Linked DNA regions of Homo sapiens: region 1 is linked to region 2. Evidence: fine-mapped QTL for protein levels in blood plasma. A gene starts in region 2. The other region holds a variant in brackets. All regions are shown on one strand. Distances are between the middles of the regions.

What was found. PIP is the posterior inclusion probability: the model's chance that the variant is causal. Protein levels are from antibody-based Olink assays in UK Biobank. Linkage for the fine-mapping came from a reference panel and not from the study's own genotypes, which makes the PIPs less certain.
Region 1: its variant is fine-mapped to the plasma level of the TIMD4 protein (UK Biobank, PIP above 0.99).

The regions. Positions count from the first base shown.
Region 1 is chr5:157,019,019-157,021,942 of GRCh38, reverse strand. No RefSeq gene overlaps it. Among named protein-coding and RNA genes, the nearest start is that of HAVCR1, 39 kb to the left of the region's middle. The variant G/T (reference allele first, on the strand shown) is at 1,281.
Region 2 is chr5:156,961,528-156,964,451 of GRCh38, reverse strand. It overlaps TIMD4 (T cell immunoglobulin and mucin domain containing 4), which reads left to right and starts at 1,226. Exons shown (of 9, transcript NM_138379.3): 1 at 1,226-1,311. The coding sequence starts at 1,254.

The sequences.
Region 1 (2,924 bases), 57 kb before region 2:
CAGCGGCTCACCCATGTAATCCCAGCACTTTGGGAGACTAAGATGGGGTGGATCACTTGAGGTCAGAAGTTCAAGACCAGCATGACCAACATGGTGAAACCCCATCTCTACTGAAAATATAAAAATTTGCCAGGTGTCTTGGTGCATGCCTGTAATCCCAGCTAGTCTCAGGAGGCTGAGGCAGGAGAATCGCTTGAACCCAGGAGGCTGAGGTTGCAGTGAGCCGAGATTGTGACACTGCACTCTATCCTGGGTGAGAGTGAGACTCTGTCTCAAACAAACAAACAAACAAACAAACAAATAAATAAATAAATAAAAATAAAAAATAAATTGATAAAAGAATGTTTCTTAGAACCTTCCTGTGTACTCTAGGGATGGGATAGAGCAAGGAAGAGTGTCTCTTTTACAAGTCCATTTATATTACTGGCTGGAGCCGGTGTGAATCTCAGTGACTTTCTGAGATCAGTAATTTGCAACCTTAGCTGCGTGTTAGAATCATCTGGGAAGGTTGAGAAACTACCCATGCCTAGATCAATTAAATCAGAATTTCAGGAGGGGGTCGCAGATATTATAATTTTTTCAATCTCCCCAGATTTTTTATGTTTTTGAGACAGATTCTTGCTGTGTTGTCCAGGCTGGAGAGCAGCAGTGTGATCAAGGCTCACTGCAGCCTCAACACCTGGGCTCAAGCAATCCTGCTGTCTCTGCCTTCGAGTAGCTAGGACTACAGGCACACCACCATGCCCATCTAATTTTTTTATTTGTAGAGACTGGGTCTCGTTATGTTGCCCAGGCTGTTCTTGAACTCGTAGGCTCAAGAGATCCTCCGATCTCAGCCTTTCAAAGTGCTGGGATTCCAGGCATGAGCCCTGTGACCAGCCTTCCCCAGGAGATTTGAGTGTGTAGCTGAGACTGAGAACCACTGACCTTGAGAGACTTGGGAAGGGGATATGACAGCATGTTTCTATGTTGTGTGTGTCAAGTGCTCTGGAAGGACATAAAAGACACAAAATGAAACAGGAAAATGTCCACAATAGGCTAGAGCAGGGGAAAAACCAAGTAAGAAAAATGGCAAGAGGCTGGTGACCACAGGTGTGTCCTATGTCTAGCACCCACTACAAGAGCATGATGTTGGTGGCACCCCTGGGAACAAGAAGGCTGAATGTTGCCATGCTTTTGGAAAGCTTCCCAGGAAGCTGGCTCACAGCTGTTCAGCTGACTTTGTCCCTGGGCCTCCTAGGAACTAAATGTTTCCCCTACAAACTGGTAAAAATAAATAA[G/T]AAAGTCCCCTTTGGACTGCGAGGAAATGCTCTAGGGTAACCCCTATTTTGTGCTGTGGACAGCTGAGATGGGGCTTGCTCTGCCTGTAAGTGCCTGCACCTGCTTGAGCCTAAAAATACTTAAAAAAAATTTGGGAATGAGGTCTTGCAATATTGCCTGGGCTTGAGTGCAGCGGCTATTCACAGGCATGATCTTAGTGCACTACAGCCTTGAAATCCTGGCTTCAAGTGATCTTCTTGCCTCAGCCTCCAGAGTAGCTGGGACTCCAGGTGAGCATAACCTGGTCAGCTCTAAAAAATACTTTGATGATGACTGATGCACACATTACTTAATGGACTTTAATTTTTAGAAAAGTTTTAGGCTAACAGCAAAGTTGAACAGAAAGTACAGAGTTCCCACATAGACACCTTCCTCACACAATACACACACACATGATTTTGCCACCACTGTTAACTTTCCCCACCAGTGTGGCATATTTGTTACAAATGATGAATCAACATTGACACATCATTCTCAATTGAAGTTCATAGTTTACATTAAGGTTCATGCTTTGTGTTGTGCATTCTATGGGTTTTGATAAATGTGTAATGACATGTACCCACCATTATAGTATCATACAAAATGGTTTTGCTGCCCTAAAAATCTTATAGATCCACCTAGTCATCCTTCCCTCTCCCCAAATCCCTGAAAGTCACTGATCTGATCTTTTCACTGTCTCCATAGTTCTATCTTTTTCAGAATGTCATATAATTGGGGGTCATACAGTATGTAGCCTCTTCAGATTGATTTCTTCCAATTAACAATATGCATTTAAGGTTCCTCCATTCTTTTGATAGCTACACAGCTCATTTCTTCTTATTGCTAAATAATATTCCATTGTCTGGATGTATCACAACTTATTTTTGTTTATTAATTTGCTTTAGTTGCTTCCAAGTTTTGGAAATTATGAATAAAACTTCCATAAACATTCATGTGCACACAGGCTTTTGTATAGACATAAGTTTTCAATTGATTTAGGTAAATATCAAGGAACACAATTATTGCATTGTCTGATAAGAGAATGTTTAGTTCTGTAAGAAACTGCCACACTGTTTTTCAAGGTGGCTGAGCCATTTTGTATTCACACCAGCAATGATTGAGAGTTCCTATTGCCCCACATCCTTGCCAGCATTTAGTGCTGGATGTTAGCCATTCTAATTGGAATGTACTGGTATGTCATTGTTGCTTTAATTTGCATTCCTTAATAACATAAGATGTTAAACATATTTCTTATGCTTATTTGCCAGCTGTATATCTTGAAAAATGTTTATTAAGATATTTTGGCCATTTTTTAATCAGCTGGTTCATTATCTTACTGTTGAGTTTTAAGAGTTCTTTGTATGTTTTATCAGATATGTCCTTTGCAAATATTTTCTCCCAGTCCATAGCTTGTCTTTTTACTGATGGTGTTTTTTGCAAAGCAGAAGTTTTTAATTTTATTAAATTCCAACTTGTCACTTTTTTCTTTCATGGATCATGTCTTTAGTGTTGTATCTAAAAAGTCATTGCCAACCCCAAGGTTATCTAGATATTCTTCTGTTATCTTGTATGAATTTTGTAGTTTGGCATTTTACATTTAGGGCTATGATCCATTTTGATTTAAT
Region 2 (2,924 bases):
GGACACTAAAGACTCATTAACAGTTCTGCATGCATGGCTGAGGCTCATGCACTGATGAACTTATTGAAGGAGGGTTGAGTGGTTTTGTTGGGGAACACTCAAAACTATAAATATCTGAAAATGTTTTATTGGGACCACTTAGTTTATCCAGAGATTAAATCCTCCAGTTTCCTGGGATAGAATGGGGAAAGGATCCCTTGGTTCTGTGGGCATTCAGTGGGAAGATTCACTCTGAATCCCGTTATTTTCATCCCTGCTCATGTTAGTCTGGCTTCTCTGGGTCTAGAACCTCACCTGATATTTAGATTTTTCACTGATACCTTCAGTAGAAGCAATGTTGAATGTTTGAGGTTTGCTGGCTGTTTACAATCAATTAAGGATTTTTAAAAATCTAGAACATTTGTGAATTCTTATATTTTCTTCCTGGTACTAAGTAGGAGCTAGCCACAGGTAGGCCTCATCATATGGATACATTACCCAAACGGTCACAGGTCAAAGGACAATGTAGTGATTAACCATAAGCTTTGGAATCAGGAAGTTCTGGGCTTCAGTGTCTTCCTAAAACTTAAAAAAAAATTTAATTTTTTTATTAAACTTTTTTTTAAATAAAAAATTGAGATGGGGTTTCGCCATGTTGATCAGGCTGGTCTCAAACTCCTGGCCTCAAGCGATCCTCCCATCTCGGCCTCCCTAAGTGCTAGGATTACAGGTGTGAGCCACTGTGCCTGTCCTCACTTTTCTTTCTCCATTATTAGGGCAAGGAGGCCAGGGGACAGGGTGAGGGAGAACCTAGAATGGGAATGGAGGCAACTTTCAGTCTAACTATGCTTTGGCCCCATGAGGAATCTACATGTAAACACTTGCCAGTATGGAGAGTCAATTGCACTTTGTGACAGGCTGTACAGCAGTTGGGACAACTGTGGCACATGCACAGGTTATACAGGCATATTTGCACCAGCACATGCATGGATGCTTGTGCACATATAGGAAACCCACTATACACATGGACAAAGAAGCACAAGTATGTCCACGCCATCCCTCCACACACACACTAGTCACCAGGAGAAAAGGGCTCAGCACATTTCATCATGCATCGCCCATTGGGGGAAGCCATGTAGGACAGGAGAAAGGGAAGATTATGAGGCAAAAAGAGAAATGAAACTAAAGAGTCCCACCCTGTCAGCATTAACTGGGATATAAGAGGTTGGGCTTTGGATAGATAGACAGACTCCTGGGTCCGGTCAACCGTCAAAATGTCCAAAGAACCTCTCATTCTCTGGCTGATGATTGAGTTTTGGTGGCTTTACCTGAGTAAGTGTTCTGAAACCTTCTATGTAGAAGTTTCCAGAGGACTTGCTATTGTGTGATGGATTTCCATGCACTGGTTTGGGCCTCAGTGAAGCAGAAGCTCACTTCATTTCTGCATCCCTCCCCTCTCCCTACCAGGCTTCCTTCTGTGGAGGGTCTCTGTCCTGCCTTGTTACACAGAGGTTTATCCAGAGACTGGTCTGGGGGTTTTAGGCTGGGGTAATTTGGGCTTATATTGGAAACAGCAACTGAAGAAGAGACACAGAAATAAGTGGTCAGATAAATTGGGGAAAAGAGATTTCCTCTATGGGTGTTATTCATATAATCAATAAGCCAGGAGAATTTGTTCTGGTGAGAATTGTGATAATTCTTATCATTCCCTCTGTTTTTAGAAGTGTTTGCTTTTTGTTTTGTTTTGCTGGGGTGAGGCTTTATGTAAGGTTTCTTTTCTGCACGTTGTTTTTGGGTTTTGGATGATGCAAGTGTACACACTCAGTTTTGGCCAGTGAAGTTCTTTGCATCCTGGTGGTATAGAGCCAAGTGTTCTGGCCTGAGCTGCAGCTGCGTCTCGGGCACTAACTGTTGACACTGGGAATATGTCTAAATTGCTCTGGCTCTCCCATATTTGAAATGAGAGACCTGGCTTTTTAAATGACCAGTTGTCACAATCTGTGCTTCTAGGACAAGATAATATTGAATGGCCCTTGCAGTTTTACAAAAGTCCATTTTTTTTTTAAATGGATACAAAATAACTATACATATTTATGGGCTACATATGTGTTATTTTGATATATACATACAATGTACAATGATCGAATCAGGGTAGTTGGGATATTCATTTCTTGAAACATTTAAATTTCTTTGTGCTGAGAACATTTCAAATGTTCTCTTCTAGTTATTTTGAAATACACAAGAAATTATTAATAACAATAGGCACCCCACTATGCTATCAAACACTAGGACTTATTCCTTCTATTTAATTGTATTTTTTCCCTTTTTCCTCATGTTCTAACTAACTGTATTTTTGTACCCATTAACCTGCCTTTCTTCATACCCCTTTTCCCCTATCCTTTGTAGACTCCAGTGACTATCATTCTATTCTCCACTTTCATGAGATCAACTTTTTTAGCTCTCATGTATGAGTGGGAACATGCAATATTTGTCTTTCTGTGCCTAGCTTAACTTAACACAATATTAATAAACTCTGTTTCCATCCATGTTGTTGCAAATGACTGAGTTTCATTCTTTTTTTATGGCTGAATATTCTACTGTGTTTATATACCACATTTTCTTTTTTTTTTTCTTTCTTTTTTTTTTTTTTTTTTTTTTTTTTTTGAGACGGAGTCTCGCTCTTTTGCCTAGGCCGGACTGCAGTGGCACTATCTCTATCTCGGCTCACTGCAAGCTCTGCCTCCTGGGTCCACGCCATTCTCCTGCCTCAGCCTCCCAAGTAGCTGGGACTATGGGCGCCTGCCACCATGCCTGGCTAATTTTTGTATTTTTAGTAGAGACGGGGTTTCACCATATTGGTCAGGCTGGTCTTGAACTCCTGACCTCAGGCGATCCACTCACCTCGGCCTCCCAAAGTGCTGGGCTTATAGGCGTGAGTCACCGCA